Regions from separate parts of the Homo sapiens genome. Here region 1 is linked to region 2. A link means that fine-mapping ties the variant in region 2 to the expression of a gene that starts in the linked region. Tissue or cell type: esophagus mucosa. Region 2 holds a variant in brackets; the other region holds the start of a gene. All regions are shown on one strand. Distances are from middle to middle.

The links. PIP is the estimated chance that this variant, and not a neighbour inherited with it, causes the effect.
Region 1: ATG4D starts here. The variant in region 2 is fine-mapped to the expression of ATG4D in esophagus mucosa (GTEx, PIP 0.95).

Annotation. Positions count from the first base shown.
Region 1 is chr19:10,540,323-10,548,422 of GRCh38, reverse strand. ATG4D (autophagy related 4D cysteine peptidase) reads right to left here and starts at 4,519. Exons shown (of 10, transcript NM_032885.6): 1 at 4,098-4,519; 2 at 3,557-3,640; 3 at 3,293-3,466; 4 at 1,308-1,584; 5 at 1,170-1,234. The coding sequence starts at 4,332. RefSeq lists an enhancer at 3,533-4,128 and silencers at 4,174-4,353, 4,404-4,743, 4,754-4,803.
Region 2 is chr19:10,515,744-10,523,843 of GRCh38, reverse strand. It overlaps S1PR5 (sphingosine-1-phosphate receptor 5), which reads left to right and starts at 6,397. Exons shown (of 2, transcript NM_030760.5): 1 at 6,397-6,446. RefSeq lists enhancers at 4,490-5,052, 7,920-8,100. The variant T/C (reference allele first, on the strand shown) is at 3,145.

The DNA.
Region 1 (8,100 bases), 25 kb before region 2:
GTAGATTAGACCCATTTTGGAGATAAGGTTCTCTGAAAATCGAATCTTTTCCCAAACACCTACAATTTTGCATAAAAAATTTACAGAGGTAGCCGGGCACGGTGGCTCCAGCTTGTAATCCCAGCACTTTGGGAGGCCGAGGAGGGGGGATCATGAGGTCAGGAGATCGAGAGACCATACTGGCAAAGACAGTGAAACCCCAACTCTACTAAAAATACAAAAAAAATTAGCTGGGCGTGATGGCACGCGCCTGTAGTCCCAGCTATTGGGAGGCTGAGGCAGGAGAATCACTCGAACTCAGGAGGCGGAGGTTGCAGTGAGCCAAGACTGTGCCACTGCACTCCAGCCTGGGTGACAGAGTGAGACTCTGTCTCAAAAAAAAAAAAAAAAAAAAAAAAAAAAAAAAAAAAAAAAAAAAATTACAGGGGCTGGGCACAGTGGCTCAAGCTTGTAATCCCAGCACTTTGGGAGGCCAAAGTGGGCGAATCACCTGAGGTCAGGAGTTCAAGACCGGCCTTGTCAACATGGTGAAACCCCATCTCTACTAAAAATAGAAAAATTAGCCTGGTATGGTGGTGCGTGCCTGTAATCCCAGCTATTTGAGAGGCTGAGGCAGGAGAATCGCTTGAACCCAGGAGGCAGAGGTTGCAGTGAGCCGAGATCGTGCCTCTGCACTGAAGCCTGGGTGACAGAGTGACCTGACCTCAGGTGATCCACCCACCTTGGCCTCCCAAAGTGCTGGGATTACAGGCGTGAGCCACTGCGCCTGGCCTCTTTTTTTTTTTTTTTTTTTTTTCGACAGGATCCTACTCTGTCGCCCAGGCTGGAGTGCAATGGCATAATGACAGCTCACTGTAACCTCGAACTCCTGGGTTCAAGCAATCCTCCCACCTCAGCCTCCCAAGTAGCTGAGACTACAGTATGTGCCACCACACCTGGCCTTATGTCTCTATTCTATCACTCAAGGAGAAGCCCCTGAAGTTTCTTGTTCCAGAGGGAGAGACGGAGAAGAGGGACTATCTCCCACTGCACAGGCCTTGCATCCTTCCCCAGTGTCCCTCTGCCCCACAACTTGTTCCAGCCTCTGAGGAAGATGCACTCTAAGAATCGGGTAAGGCAGAGTCTGGCTCAGGGTGGGGCCCCTGTGATCTTGGCTCCCAGCCCCTTACCTGTGCAGTCCTGAGAAACGTACACCACCAGGCGGGTGACGTCGGAGCAGCTCTCCACGGCTTTCCTGGGGGCAGGAGGGAAGGCCTGAGTGCCTGCGGGTACCCAGCAACTCCCGTGATCCCTGCAGCAGCCCTCACCTGAGGATGTGTGCCACTAGCGATGGCCCATACCAGTCACCTGCCTTCTTGCCTGAGCTCTGCCCAAGCTCCACCAGCCGGTGTAGGCCAAAGGGGGCCCGGGGGTGGTCGGCGAACCAGGACACAATCTGCCGGTGCCGGCGTTCCTGCTCCAGCTCAGGGGCACCCTGGGCCCAGCGTGGGGGCATCCAGCGGGCAGGCCCATGGTACCGGCTGGGAGAGGCTGACCCTGACAGCTCAGGGGGGCCCAGGCCCATGCCCTCGGCCCATGTCCAGTCTGGTGGAATGGAGCACATAGTCAAACAGTGCTAGTGTGTGGGGGGCAGAGGTCCCATCTACACATGCACCGCACACAATGCGAATGCTCCTGAACCCCGTAATTCAACAGAATTTACATATTCCTGAAACATATACTTATCCTTATTTATTTATTTATTTTTTGTTACTTAAAGACAGGATCTCAGCCAGACGCGGTGGCTCATGCCTGTAATCTCAGCACTTTGGGAGACCAAGGCAGGTGGATCACTTGAGGCCTGGAGTTCGAGACCAGCCTGGCCAACATGGTGAAACCCCTTCTCTGATAAAAAAAAAAATATACAAAAAGTAGACAAGCGTGGTGGCGGGCACCTGTAATCCCAGCTACTCAGGAGGCTGAGGCAGGAGAATCGCTTGAACCTGGGAGGCAGAGGTTGCAGTGAGCCAAGATCTCTCCACTGCACTTCAGCCAGGATGATAGAGGAAGACTCAGTCTCAAAAAAAAAAATAATAATAATAATAAATAAAATAAATAAATAAAGACAGGATCTCACTGTCATCCAGACTGGAGTGCAGTGGCACAATCACGTCTCACTACAGCCTCTAAATCCTGAGCTCAACAGATTCTCCCGCCTCAGCCTCCTGAGTAGTTGGGATCACAGGCACATGCCACCACACTCAGCTAATTTTTAAAATTTTTTTGTAGAGACAGGAGCCTTGTCATGTGGCCTAGGCTGGTGTCGAATGCCTATGCTCAAGCGATCCTCCTGCCTCAGCCTCCTAATGTGCTGGGATTACAGGCATGAGCCACCACACTCGACCTGTTATTGTTGGAGTCTCATTCTGTCACTCGGGTTGGAGTGCAGTGGCAGGATCATAGTTCACTGCAGACTTGAACACCTGGGCACGAGCAATCTTCCCACCTCAGCCTCCCAGGTAGCTGGGATTACAAGCATGCAGCACAGTGCCCAGCCAAAACTCTTTTTTTTTTTTTGAGACTGAGTCTCGCTCTGCCACCCAGGCTGGAGTGCAGTGGCACGGATCTCGGCTCACTGCAACCTCCGCCTCCCCGGTTCAAGCAATTCTCTGCTTTACCTTGCCAAATTACAGGTGCCTGCCACCACACCCAGCTAATTTTTGTATTTTTAGTAGAGATGGGGTTTCACCATCTTGGCCAGGCTGGTCTTGAACTCCTGACCTCATGATCCACCAGCCTCAGCCTCCCAAAGTGCTGGGATTACAGGCATGAGCCACCGTGCCTGGTGAAACTTTTTTTTATTTTTATTTTTGACACAGAGTCTCCCTCTGTTGCCCAGGCTGGAGTGCAGTGGTGCGATCTTGGCTTGCTGTAACCTCCGCCTCCTGGGTTCAAGAGATTCTCCCACCTCAGCCTCGGGAGTAGCTGGGATTACAGGCGTGTGCCACCACAACCGGCTAATTTTTGTATTTTTAGTAGAGATGGGGTTTCATCATATTGGCCAGGCTGGTCTTGAACTCCTGACCGCAAGGGATCCATCCGCCTCAGCCTCCCAAAGTGCTAGGATTACAGGCATGAGCCACCGTTTCCAACCCCGGCTGAAACTCTTATAAACAACTCTCATCTCTCCAAAACTTACTTGACACACAATTCTAACGTGACTTTGAACTCTTAGTTGGTAAGTAATTCTAATACTGCTGATATGGCAGTTGACCCTGTACTCCTAGTGCACCCCTTCCCCCCTATGGCTCACCTCTGGGCAGGAAATGCAGCAGAAGGCCCTGTGCCAGCATCATCTGGCCGCTGCGTAACATGCACCCCCAGCCACAGTCCGAGGTCAGGCAGCCCCCAGGAAGGGGCGGGAAGTCCCGGCGGTATGTGAGCCACAGGCGGGACACAAAGTCCCGCTGGAAACGCTGTATGTCACCTACAAGAGCGGGTCTGTCAGCTGCCACCAGGGACACTCCGGCGGGCGTGGAGAGGCCTCCCCCAGCCCTGGTCCCAACCACCAGCTCACCCTCGCCCTCGAAACGGTAGCGGCGGCCACAGAGGTGGATGCTGGAGATCTTGCTAAAGCTGGTCCGGCTTTTAACCACCCAACCTGGGGAGACGTAGGGGCAGCGCCCAGCGAGATGAAGCACTTGCATGACAGCAACAGCGCTTCCATTCCCCCATCTGTGAAATGGGCACGATCCTAGTTCCTATCTCCGGGGTGGCTCCGGGGATTCCGTCGGAGGTGGGGCCCCCAGTGACAGCTACAGGAGTGTCCACCATCAATTCAGGATGAAGGAAGGTAGTTCTGATTATTGTACCCATTTTACAGAGAGGGGCAAAAACGGAGGCGCCAGGAAGCAAAGGATCTTGCCCAAGGTCACACAGGGGAATGGGCGGGGCTTGAAAACACTATTGGACCTGCCACAGGTCCACCCTGGGCCGGGCAGGGAGGGGACCCACAGGTGACTCAGGACGGGAACAAGGGTGGGATAACTGGCAGGACCGGGGTCTGGTTTTCCTCAACGGCCCCCGACACCCCCACGATCTCCGGGCCCCCTCCTCACCGTACTTGACGTTGTTCCAGGCTGTCAGGAACTTGGCCTTGAACTTGTCCACTTCGTCCGGCTCACTCGGGCCAGCCCCGGGAGAGCCAAGAGCGGGGCCGCTGGCTCCGGAAGGCCCCAGGCCGTTGGGGTCTGGGCCTCTGGGACCCCGCGGCCTGCGGGCCTCGGGCCGGCGGCGCGCGTCCTCCGGGCTGCTGCTCCGGTACTGCGCGGCGGCCGGCGACACTGAGTTCATGGACGCGCCGGGAGGGCGGACCGAGGGCCCAGGTGGGGGGCTGCGGCCGCTGCCCCCCAAGGGCGACCCGCAGCCGGTTCACGGGGCCCGGGGAAGGCGCTACTCGGCCCCCGTCCCCAGGGTACCGGGCCAGGCAACAGCCGCCGCCGCTGCTACCGCAGCCATCGCCATCTTAGCGGGCCAGGACCCCGGATGACGGTGGGCGTGGCCAAGCCAGACGCCCCGCCCCGCCCTCTCCCCGCCCAGCCGCCTTTCCTGCCCCGATCCCGGGTCGCCAGGCGGGGACCTCAAACCCCGACGCCTTCCCGCGGCCTCCCCCCGCCCTCCTTATCACACCGCCAGGAGCGCGACAGCCCCTTCAGGCCCTTATCGGAGGCAGCAGAGCTGGGGAACCCCTGCCCCTGGCCCCGCCCCTAGTCCTGCCCCCCAGGGCCCAGGACTGACCTCCTGGCAGGCGCCCAGGTGAGACTGACTGCGCACCTGCAGCGCCCGCCCCGCCTCCCGAGTGCACCTGCGCGGGCTGCCGACCCAGAACCCGCCCTGGCCTGGGACCAAATCGACTAGTGTGACCTCCGGGGCAAGCCACGCCTCTCTGTGCCTCAGTTTCCTCATGTGCAAAATAGGGCTGGAATACACGCAACAACATAGACGAATCTTCATGAGAATTATGCTCAGGGAAAAAAAATCCAGGGGTAGGCAGGCGCGGGAGGGAGGGATGAATGAAGTGCTCCAGGAAAGTTTTTTTCAGTGTTTGTTTTGTCGAGACAGCATCTGGCTCTGTTGTCCAGACTGGAGTGCAGTGGCGCTTTCATAGCTCACTGCAGCCTCCAACTCTGATCCTCCAACCTCAGCCTCCAGAGTAGCTGAGACCGCAGACAGGAGCCACCATGCCTGGTTAATTTTTTAAATTTTATTTGTAGATAAGGGGTCTCGCTATGTTGTCTAGGCTGGTCTCAAACTCCTGGCTTCATGAGATCCTCCCGCCTCAGCCTCCCAAATGCTGGGATTACAGGCGTGAGCCACCACCTCAGGCAGGAAGACATTTTTTGGAGCTGTGGATAAATTCAGTATCTTAACTGTAATAGTGGCTTCACAGGTGTGAAAACTCATCAGATTGTACGCTTAAAATTTGCATGGTTTTGTATATGTCTATTATACCTCAATAAGGCTGAAAAAAAACCTCTTTGTTTTAAAAAGTAATCAGTTAACTTTTTATAGAGACAAGTTCTCTCTATGTTGCCCAGGCTGGCCTGAAACTCCTTAGCTCAAGTGATCCTCCTGCCTCAGCCTCCCAAGTAGCTGAGACTACAGGAAAATATTTTATTTTATTTTATTTTTTAATTTTTTTTCTCTAACCTTGCGAGGCCCAAACAGATTTTGGTTGTTGTTGTTGAGACAGGGTCTTGCTCTGTCATCCAGACTACAGTGCAGTGGCCTGATCATGGCTCACTGCAGTCTCAACTGCCGAGGCTTAAGCAAGTCTCCTGCCTCAGCCACCTGAGTAGCTAGGACTATAGGCACATGCCACCACCCCTGGCTAATTTTTTTTTTTTTTTTTGAGACGGAGTCTCGTTCTGTTGCCCAGGTTGGAGTGCAATGGCGCGATCTCGACTCACTGCAAGCTCTGTCTCCCAGGTTCACACCATTCTCTTGCCTCAGCCTCCCGAGTAGCTGGGACTACAGGCGCCCGCCACCACGCCTGGCTGATTTTTTGTATTTTTAGTAGAGACGAGGTTTCATCGTGTTAGCCAGGATGGTCTCGATCTCCTGACCTCGTGATCCGCCCACCTCGGCCTCCCAAAGTGCTGGGATTACAGGCGTGGGCCACCGTGCCTGGCCACCCCTGGCTAATTTTTAAAAATTTTTCTGTAGAGATAGAGTCTCCCAGTGTTGCTCAGGCTAGTCTTGAACTCCTGGGCTGAAACGATTAGCCTCAGCCTCCCAAAGTTCTAGGATGACAGACATGAGCCACTGCACCTGGCCAGGGACAATTTTTATTTTTTATTTTATTTTCATTTATTTATGTATTTATTTTGAGATGGAGTTTCGCTCTTGTTGCCCAGGCTGGAGTGCACTAGTGCGATCTTGGCTCACTGCAACCACCACCTCTCAGGTTCAAGCAATTCTGCTGCCTCAGCCTCCTGAGTAGCTGGGATTACGGGCGCACACCACCACGCCCAGCTAATTTTTGTATTTTTAGTAGAGATAGGATTCCACCACGTTGGCCAGGCTGGTCTCGAACTCCTGACTGAGGTGATCCGCCAGCCTCGGCCTCCCAAAGTGCTGGGATTACAGGCATGAGCGATTGCACCCAGCCAGGAAAAAGTTTTAAATGTGTCTAACTCATAAAGATGTATGGGAATGAGCTGAACTTACCAATGTAAAGTGCTTAGAGTGGTATTTGAGGAACAGTTGGGGCTCAGTGAGAGCCAACTGCATGATGACAATGCAGTGACCCTGTGAGCCATGGAGAGGGTGGCCTCTAGTGGCCAGCCCCGGGGCTCTGTCCTCAGCTCTCTGAAGGAGGTAAGAAAGATTTGAATGAGGGTGTGATCCAAGAAGGAGAAGGCACAAAAGGGGCAGTCACCTCCCTGACTTTCCTTTTTTCCCCTCTCCTCCCAGTCGCCTTCAATCACAATTGACCCCTTTCTCTTTCATTAATTTATTAATTTATTGATTTATTTTATTTTATTTTTTTGAGACAGAGTCTTGCTCTGTAGCCCAGGCTGGAGTGCACTGGCACAATCTCAGCTCACTGCAACCTCCGCCTCCCAGGTTCAAGCAATTCTCCTGCCTCAGCCTCTGGAGTAGCTGGGATTACAGGTGTGAGCCACCACACCCGGCTAATTTTATATTTTTAGTAGAGACAGAGTTTCACCATGTTGACCAGGCTGGTCTTGAACTCCTGACCTCAGGTGATCTGCCCGCCTGGGCCTCCCAAAGTGCTGGGATTACAGGCTTGAGCCACTGCAACCAGCCAAGTGCACCCTTTCTCAAACTCAACAGAGCCAATGCCACCTCAGAGTCTTTGCACTTGCTGTTCCCTCTGCCCAGACCACGTTTCTTACCATGGCTCTCCGTCACCTCCTTCAGGTCTTTTTTTTTTTTTTTGGCAGGGTCTCACTTTGTTGCCCAGGCTGGAGTGCAGTGGCACGATCATAACTCACTGCAACCACGACCTTCTGGGCACCAGTGATCCTCCTGCCTCCTGAGTAGCTGGGATTACAGGCATGTGCCACCACACCCAGCTAATTTTTATATTTTTAGTAGAAATGGGGTTTCACCATGTTGGCCAGGCTGGTCTCGAACTCCTGACCTCAAGTAATCCACCCACCTCAGCCTCCCAAAGTACTGGGATTACAGACGTGAGACACTGTGCCCGGCCGCAAGTCTTTATTCAAATATCACCCCTACACGAAGATTACCACTCTCAAAATTCTCCCCCATCTCCATCCTTGGTCTCCTTCTCTTCCCTGCCTTTTTCCCCCTCCCCGCCGCATGGGAGTAGTTATCACAACCTTACTGTCTTTATCCCCTTGGGCTGCTGTGACAAATACCATAGCCTTGGGGGCTAAAACAACACACCTTTGCTTCTCACAGTTCTAGAGGCTAGAAAGTCCCAGATCAGGGTGCCAGCATGGTTCTTGGTGGGATTCTCTTCTATTTTTTGTTTTGTTTTGTTTTTTTGTTTTAGATGGAGTTTTTGCCCAGGCTGGAGTGCAATGGCAATCTCGGCTCACCACAACCTCTGCCTCCCGGGTTCAAGCG
Region 2 (8,100 bases):
GGCAGAGGGAGGTTGCGGTGAGCCAAGATTGCGCCATTGCACCACTCCAGTCTGGGCAAGAGCGAAACTCCCTCAAAAAAAAAAAAAAAAAAAGAAAAAGAAAAGGGAAAACAGCCAGGCAGAAGGATTGAACCAGCAAATCCAGGTACCTGGAGGCTGGAAAGAATGTGTGTGTGGCAGAAACTAAAATCATTGCAGTATGCCATGAGCTCAGCTTAGAACAAGTAAGGAGCAGGGGACCGGAGGGGAAGCCCAGGGTTGCCAGGCCTCCAATGCCAGACCTCTGTAGTTTGTTCACCCCATTTCTGTGTGACTGTGGACAGCTTGCTTAACCTCTCAGATCTCAATCTGGGACACCTATAAAGTGGAGACATAAAAGTCCCTTTCCTTCTCACATGATGTTCTGGGTGGGAATGTAACATGGTGTAGAAAGTTCAGCACATTGCCCCGCTTTGAACTAACCACTTGATAAATGTCAAATATAATTTTTAACAGCTTTATTGAGGTATAATTCAGATGTCATCAAATTCACACACTTGAAATATACAACTGTGGTTTTTAGTGTATTTTACAGAGTGGTGCAACCTTCACCACATTCTAATTAAAAAAAAATTTTTTTTTTTTTGAGACGGAGTCTTACCCTGTTGCCCAGGCTGGAGTCAGTGGCATGATCTCAGCTTACTGCAACCTCTGCCTCCTAGGTTCAAGCGATTCTCCTGCCTCAACCTCCTGAGTAGCTGGGATTACAGGCATGCACCCCCATGCCTGGCTAATTTTTTTCTATTTTTAGTAGAGACGGGGTTTCACCTTGTTGGTCAGGCTTGTCTCGAACTCCTGACCTCGTGATCCACCCACCTTGACCTCCCAAAGTGCTGGAATTGTGGGCGTGAGCCATAGCGTCCAGCTTTTTTTTTTTTTTTTGAGACAGAGTCTCGCTCTGTTGCCAGGCTGGAGTACAGTGGCATGATCTCGGCTCACTGCAACCTCTGACTCCCTGGTTCAAACGATTCTCCTGCCTCAGCTTCCGAGTAGCTGGGATTACAGGCACGTGCCACCAAGCCCAGCTAATTTTTGTATTTTTAGTAGAGATGGCATTTCACCATGTTGGCCAGGATGGTCTCGATCTCCTGACCTCATGATCCACCCGCCTTGGCCTCCCAAAGTGCTGAGATTATGGGTGTGAGCCACAGCACCTGGTCACATATCTATATTTATTTTCTTATCCATTTATTAAAATAAACTTGAGCTCATACTGATAACCTCAATGCAGCAGTACCTGGCTTATTTGTCATTTTTTTTCCCCAACAGTATGAAACCTGGTTATTCATATCTACAACACGTGTACTTATTTGTTCAATGTTAGCATGAAAGCATTTTCAGAATTGTTGCCTTGTACTTCTTTTTCTTTTTGTTTTTTGAGACGGAGTCTCGCTCTGTCACCCAGGCTGGAGTGCAGTGGCGCGATCTCGGCTCACTGCAACCTCTGCCTCCCCGGTTCAAGCAATTCTCCTGCCTCAGTCTTCGGAGTAGCTGGGATTACAGGCGTGCACCACCATGCCCGGCTAATTTTTGTATTTTTAGTAGAGATTGGGATTTCACCATGTTAGTCAGGCTTGTCTCGAACTCCTGATCTCAGGTGATCCACCCCCCTCGGCCTCCTAAAGTGCTGGGATTAGAGGTGTGAGCCACTGCGCCCAGCCTGTTGCCTTGTACTTCTAAGAGAAACAAATTTACTGGCTAGAGTGCAGCATTTCTGTCCAGTTCGGATAGCTGTTTGAGTGTGAAACCTCACTGAGCTGCACAAACAAGCCTTGTGCATGTGAGTTGGAGTTGGCCCTCGGGCCTCCCGTTTGAGACCCCCAAACCCTGCCTCTCTGTTCTCTGGCTGTGGGAAAGTTGTCAGTTCACACCTCCCTGCAGCCACATTTAAGTTTCAGGGCTGTGAAAAAGGGAATGTGGGCCGGGTGCAGTGGCTCATGCCTGTAATCCCAGCCCTTTGGGAGGTCGAGGCAGCAGGATCACTTGAGCCCAGTAGTTTGAGACCAGTCTGGGCAACATGGCGAAACTCTGTCTCTACAAAAATACAAAAAAAGTAGCTGGGCATGGTGGCGCATGCTACTTGGGAGGCTGTAGTGGCAGGATCCCTTGAACTCGGGGTGGAGGTTGCACTGAGCCAAGATCACTGCGCACTGCACTCCAGCCTGGGTGGCAGAGCCAGACCCTATCTCAAGAAAAAAAAAAAAAAAAAGACCGGGCAGGGTGGCTCACGCCTATAATCCTAGCACTTTGTGAGGCCAAGGCAGGTGGAACACAAGGTCAGGAGTTCGAGACAAGCCTGACCCATATGGTGAAACCATGTCTCTACTAAAAATACAAAAATTATCCGGGTGTGGTGGCGCGTGCCTGTAATCCCAACTACTCAGGAGGCTGAGGCAGGAGAATTGCTTGAACCCAGGAGGTGGAGGTTGCAGTGAGCCCAGATAGTGCCATTGCACTCCAGCCCAGGTGACAGAGTAAGACTCCGTCTCAAAAAAAAAAAAAAAAAAAAAAAGGGCAGGGGGAGTGAGGAGGGTGGGAATGGGAGTGGGTGAAGGGGATCTGAGGGTACCATGGGAGGCAGTTTGCCCTCTCGAAGGTGCAGACCCAGCTCTGCAAGAGCGGGCGCTGGGTGGAGCTGCCTCTGTGGGCGAGGGTGCTGGCAGCAGAACTGGCCCAGCGGGTGTGCTGGCCTAGGCATGCTTCAGGCGGGAGGGCTGCTGCAAGACACAGCAGGAACATAGAGGCCAGGGGTGCCCTGAACCCGGGAAGAGACAGTTTGGCCTGTGGGGTGTGGGAGGAGGTATGGGGTGGGGGCGGGTGGTGGCAATGTCTGGGGCTGATTCCTTATGAGCCCATTGCCCTAATTCTTCTTTGGGGATACAGTGGTGACCAATAATAGCTGCACTGACATTTGTGGAGCTCTCATTGTATACCTTGGCTCTGTTCCAACTGTTCATTTCATCTTCAACAACAGCCTTGGAGTGGGTGCGGTTATCTCAATTTTATTTTTATTTTTTTTTTGAGATGGAGTCTCACTGCATTGCTCAGGCTGGAGTGTAGTGGCGCGATCTTGACTCACTACAACTTCCGCCTGCCAGGTTCAGG[T/C]GATTCTCCTGCCTCAGCCTCCGGAGTAGCTGGGACTACAGGTGCGCGCCACCACGCCCGGCTAAGTTTTATATTTTTAGTGGAGATGGGGTTTCACCATGTTGGCCAGTCTGGTCTTGAACTCCTGACTTCAGGTGATCTGCCCACCTCGGCCTCTCAAAGTGCTGGGATTACAGGCATGAGCCACTGCACCTGGCTATTATCTCAATTTTACAGATAAGTCCACTGAGGCTCACAGTGGGTATCACTTGCCTGCCTCAAGACCTTGAGTCCTGTCTCACTCCTGTAATCCCAGCACTTTGGGAGGCTGAGGCAGAAGAATTGCTTGAGTCCAGGAGTTCAAGGCCAGCTTAGGTAACCTGGCGAGACCCTGTCTCTACAAAAAATTTTAAAAAGTAGCCAGGTGCAGTGGCTGGCACCTACGGTCCCAGCTACTCTGGAGGTTGGGCAGAGGATTGCTTGAAGCCTGGAAAGTCGAGGCTGCAGGGAGCTGTGATCACGGCACTGTGCCCCAGCCTGGATGACAGAGTGAGGCGCTGTCTCACAAAAGAAAGAAAAATCAAAAAACTGTGAGCCCTTAACCTTTAGGAATCTGGGCAGAGGGACAGACCTGCCTTCCTGGAGCTGAGGCTCTAGGTCAGAGATACACATTAGGAAAGATGAATAAATAAATGAAATGAACAAGGTGGCCGGGCACGGTGGCTCACGCCTGTAATCCCAGCACTTTGGGAGGGGGAGGCGGGCGATTCATCTGAAGTCAGGAGTTGGAGACCAGCCTGGCCAACATGGTGAAACCCCGCCTCTACTAAAAATACAAAAATTAGCTGGGCGGGGTGGTGCATTCCTGTAATCCCAGCTACTCTGGAGGCTGAGGCAGGAGAATTGCTTGAAGCCAGGAGGCGGAGGTTGCAGAGGCGAAGTTTGCAGTGAGCCCAAATCGCACCACTGCACTCCAGCCTGGGCAATAAAGGGAGATTACAAAAAAAAAAAAAAAGCAAAAGCAAGGTGATTTCAGATAATGCCAACTGCCATTTGAGATGAGGGACAGATCAGGGAAGGTCTCTCTGAGGAGGTGACCAGCTGACCAGCTGGGAAGGGGTGGGGAGAAGGGTGCTCCAGGCCACCTGGCCCCCAAGTTCAAAAGTCTTGAAGTGTGTGTGGAACTCGGAGGAGCCCGGGAGGCAGAAGCAGAGTGGAGCAGAGAGAGGCACAGAAGTAACAGAAAGAGACAAATCAGGACGGCATATGGCCTTGTCCTTGCGGGGTCCTCACTGAGGACTTGATCACTTACTCTGAGAAACACAGGGAGCCACGGGAGGGTTTGGAGCAGAAAAGAAATGTGATCTGAGTTTTAAGAACTGTGGCCAGGAGTGTGGAGTGGCAGCTAGGGATGGGACTCCCAACATCTGTCGAGATCCTGGAGCCTGAGTCCCCAGGGTCCCAATTCGTGGGAAAGAAGTTCAGGGAGGCAGCTGGAGAGGCAGGTTGCTGAGCCCGGGACCCGCAGCCGGAAGAGCCCCATTTTCGAGAGAAGTGAGATTGGCGCCTGGGAGGTGTGAAGCAGCCACCTCCCCACCCTGGGGCGCGGCTTCCCCTTTACAGAAGGAGGTCATTTATTGAGCACCTACTGGGTGCCAGCCACAGCCATGCTGGGAGATCTTCAGGGGTCATCCCAGTGGGCACCATTGGAGTTGGCTTGGTCCACAGGACTGGGGAACCTGGCACTGAAGGGTTAACACCGTCCCACCCTGCGGGTCCCATTGGCTGTGTCTTTGAGCAGAGCAGGCAGGAAAGGTTCTGCCCACCGAGGGAACAGCGGGGGCAGGAGGGCTGGGATCCCCAAGGGGCTACATGGGGGCCTGACCCGGCCTGAGTGCCCCCTGAGTTTCCTCCCACGAGGGTATCCCGGATCCACACTTATTCTCAGCCTCTGGCTCATCTCTCCTGGGGCGCCCTCACCCCACCCGCGGCCAGCAGGGCCTGAAGCATCAGGGGCAAAGGGCACGGTCCTGGAGAAGGTCGCAGCAGCGGGACCCAGCCTCCCTTCCTGAATCTGAGGGTGGAAGAGCTGGGACCGTCTGGAAGTTCCTGGGAAGTCGGGGTGGGGGCGTTTCGGGGCCAGCGGGACTGGTCGTTGGAGGAGCAGTGGCCTGGGAGAGGCGTGGGAGAGCATCACAGACAGCAACAAAGAGACACGCAGAGGCAAAGAGACACGCAGAGACAAAGAGACACGCAGGCGAGAGACTCTGAGATCCTCCTGAGAGAGATACAGAGGAAGTGAGGGAGACACTCATTCATTATCTGGGCATGGTTGCAAGCGACTGGAGTCCCAGCAGCTACGTTCAGCCGGCTGAGATGGGAGGATGGCTTGAGCCGCGGAGGTCGAGACTGCAGTGACTTATGATGTTGCCACTGCACTCCACTCTGGGCCACAGAGCAAGATCTTGTCTCAAAAAAAAAAAAAAAAAAGAAATTCTTACATTGCTGGGGTTTACTGTCTGCTAAGGACACAGCCCAGAAACACCATTAATGAGTAAATCACTTTGTCGTCAGCGATAAGGGTGGGAGAGAATCGGTCGGGGGAACACGGAATCCAGGGGGTGGGACAGGAGAGACCCTCCTTATCTGAGGAGCGGCAAGTTCCCATCACAATCCTGCCCGGGCCCGCCCCACCCCCACTCGCCCTGAGCCGGGGGCGGGAGCGGGAAATTGGGAGGGGCCTGTGCCCGGGAGCAGCGGGAACCTATCTGCTGGTGGGAGAGGACTCAGGCTAAGGTGGCCCCCACTGAAGACTCCTGCTAAGCAACCCACTGAAGACCCCTCCGAATCATCGACGGGGCGTCCTTGGGGTGCAGCCCAGGAAGCTCAGTTCACAGGTGGGTGGGCAATGGGAGGGCGCAGTGCCCGGACACCCAGGACAGAGGAGACCCCTCCGCTGGGGAGAAGAGGCTCAGGCTGCGACCGCCCTGCTGCAGAACCCTCCCTTTCCCGCCTCTCCGAGTCCTCCCACCGCGATGGAGCGTCCCTGGGAGGACAGCCCAGGCCCGGAGGGGGCAGCTGAGGGCTCGCCTGTGCCAGTCGCCGCCGGGGCGCGCTCCGGTGCCGCGGCGAGTGGCACAGGCTGGCAGCCATGGGCTGAGTGCCCGGGACCCAAGGGGAGGGGGCAACTGCTGGCGACCGCCGGCCCTTTGCGTCGCTGGCCCGCCCCCTCGCCTGCCAGCTCCAGCCCCGCCCCCGGAGCGGCGTCCGCTCACTCGGTTCAAGGCAGCGCGACTGCGGGTGGCGCACGACCAGGGCGCAGAGTGAGTGGACTGCACTGGACCTTTGGGGGCGCTGGGCTGGGCCTGACCCGGAGGGGGTCGCCCTGGCGGCCACTTTCCCGGTCTAAAAAGGCGCACCACTCCTTGCAGGGAGTTCTCCGAACTTTTCCTGGAGGCCTCTGGGGAGGGGGAAGCTGGGGGCTCCCCAGCTGGGTGCAGGACCTGGGATACGGGGTGAAGGTGGCTGGAATCCCCTGGCCACCCCCTCCTGGCCGGGCCACTGCAAGTTTCCATACTTCAGTCCTGCTGCCGGGCAAGCTGGGCGGATGGGGTTGGCCTCCCCCTCAGAGCATGTGTAACCCTGTCTCCCTGTATTTGGGCTCCCCACCTCCAGCATGGGTGAGCCAGCGACTTCCTGTCTATGTTTGCCTGCCTTGATTCTCTGTGTGTGACTGAAGCTCTCTGGGATGTCCGCATCCCTGCCTTGTGCAAAAGAGATCCATTCCCCTCCCCAGGCCTTGGCTTTCTCATCTGGACTTGCATGGGGACTATTTGTGCATGGATGTTTGTGTGGGAGCATGGAAACCTTTGCGCCTGCTTCGATACGAAGCATTTCTTTTGAGCTTCAGTTTTCTCATCTGTAAATTAGGACTAAAGGAAGTGGGGATTAATAAGGTCACAGAGGCAGGTGAGGAGTGTTATTACAGTTTAATGACATGTGTGCCCCTCTGTAAGAGTCTGTTTGCCTCTTGTGGATTCTCTCTCCTGTCCTCAGGCTCTGCCTTAGTAAAATGAGTGAATAGGATCAACTTTTTTTTTTTTTTTTTTTTTTGAGACGGAGTTTCTCTCTTGTCACCCAGGCTGGAGAGCAGGGGTGCGATCATGGCTCACTGCAGCCTCGGCCTCCCAGGCTCAAGTGATCCTCCCGCCTCAGTCTCTTGAGTAGCTGGGACTATAGGGGCATAACACCACACCTGGCTAATTTTTAAATTTTTTTGTAGAGATGAAGTCTTAGTATGTTGCCCAAGCTGGTGTCGAACTCCTGGGCTCAAGTGATACTCCCACCTCGGCCTCCCAAAGTGCTGGGATTACAGGCGAAAGCCACTGTGCCTGGCCAAGGAGCAACTTTCTCATGGGGTTTTGGGTGGATGAGGGGGTTTTGGCAGGAAAAAGCTTTGTATGCAGTGAGACAAGAGTGTGGAGTGTGGTGCACTGGGCCCCAGGCTAGTGTGAGTGGAGGTTGTGAAATTGTGGCCTGTGCCACTGGGTGGGAGACCCTGTATTCGTGTGACTGAATTTTGGTCGCTGTGTTTTTCTGCCTGCGTCACTCTGTTCCTGTATGATGTATTTTTTAGTTTCCCTGATAGTGTGTGACTGTGTGTTTTGCCCTTGTAGTGTGTCGCTGTATTTGTGTGTCTCTTTCTGTGTGTGTTGCGTTTGTGTGCGTTCTGTGTGTTTACTGTTACGTCTCTGGAACTCCCTGCTTGTGTGTTTGTGTGTGTGTGTTTGAGACAAAGTCTTGCTCTGTTGTCCTGGCTGGAGTACAGTGGCACAATCAATGCTCACTGACTGCAGCCTTGACCCCGCGGGCTCAAGTGATCCTCTCACCTCAGCTGGGACTCCACTGAGTAGCTTGGACTATAGGCATACACCAACACGTCCCGGCTAATTTTTGTAGAAACGGGGTTCTCCTATG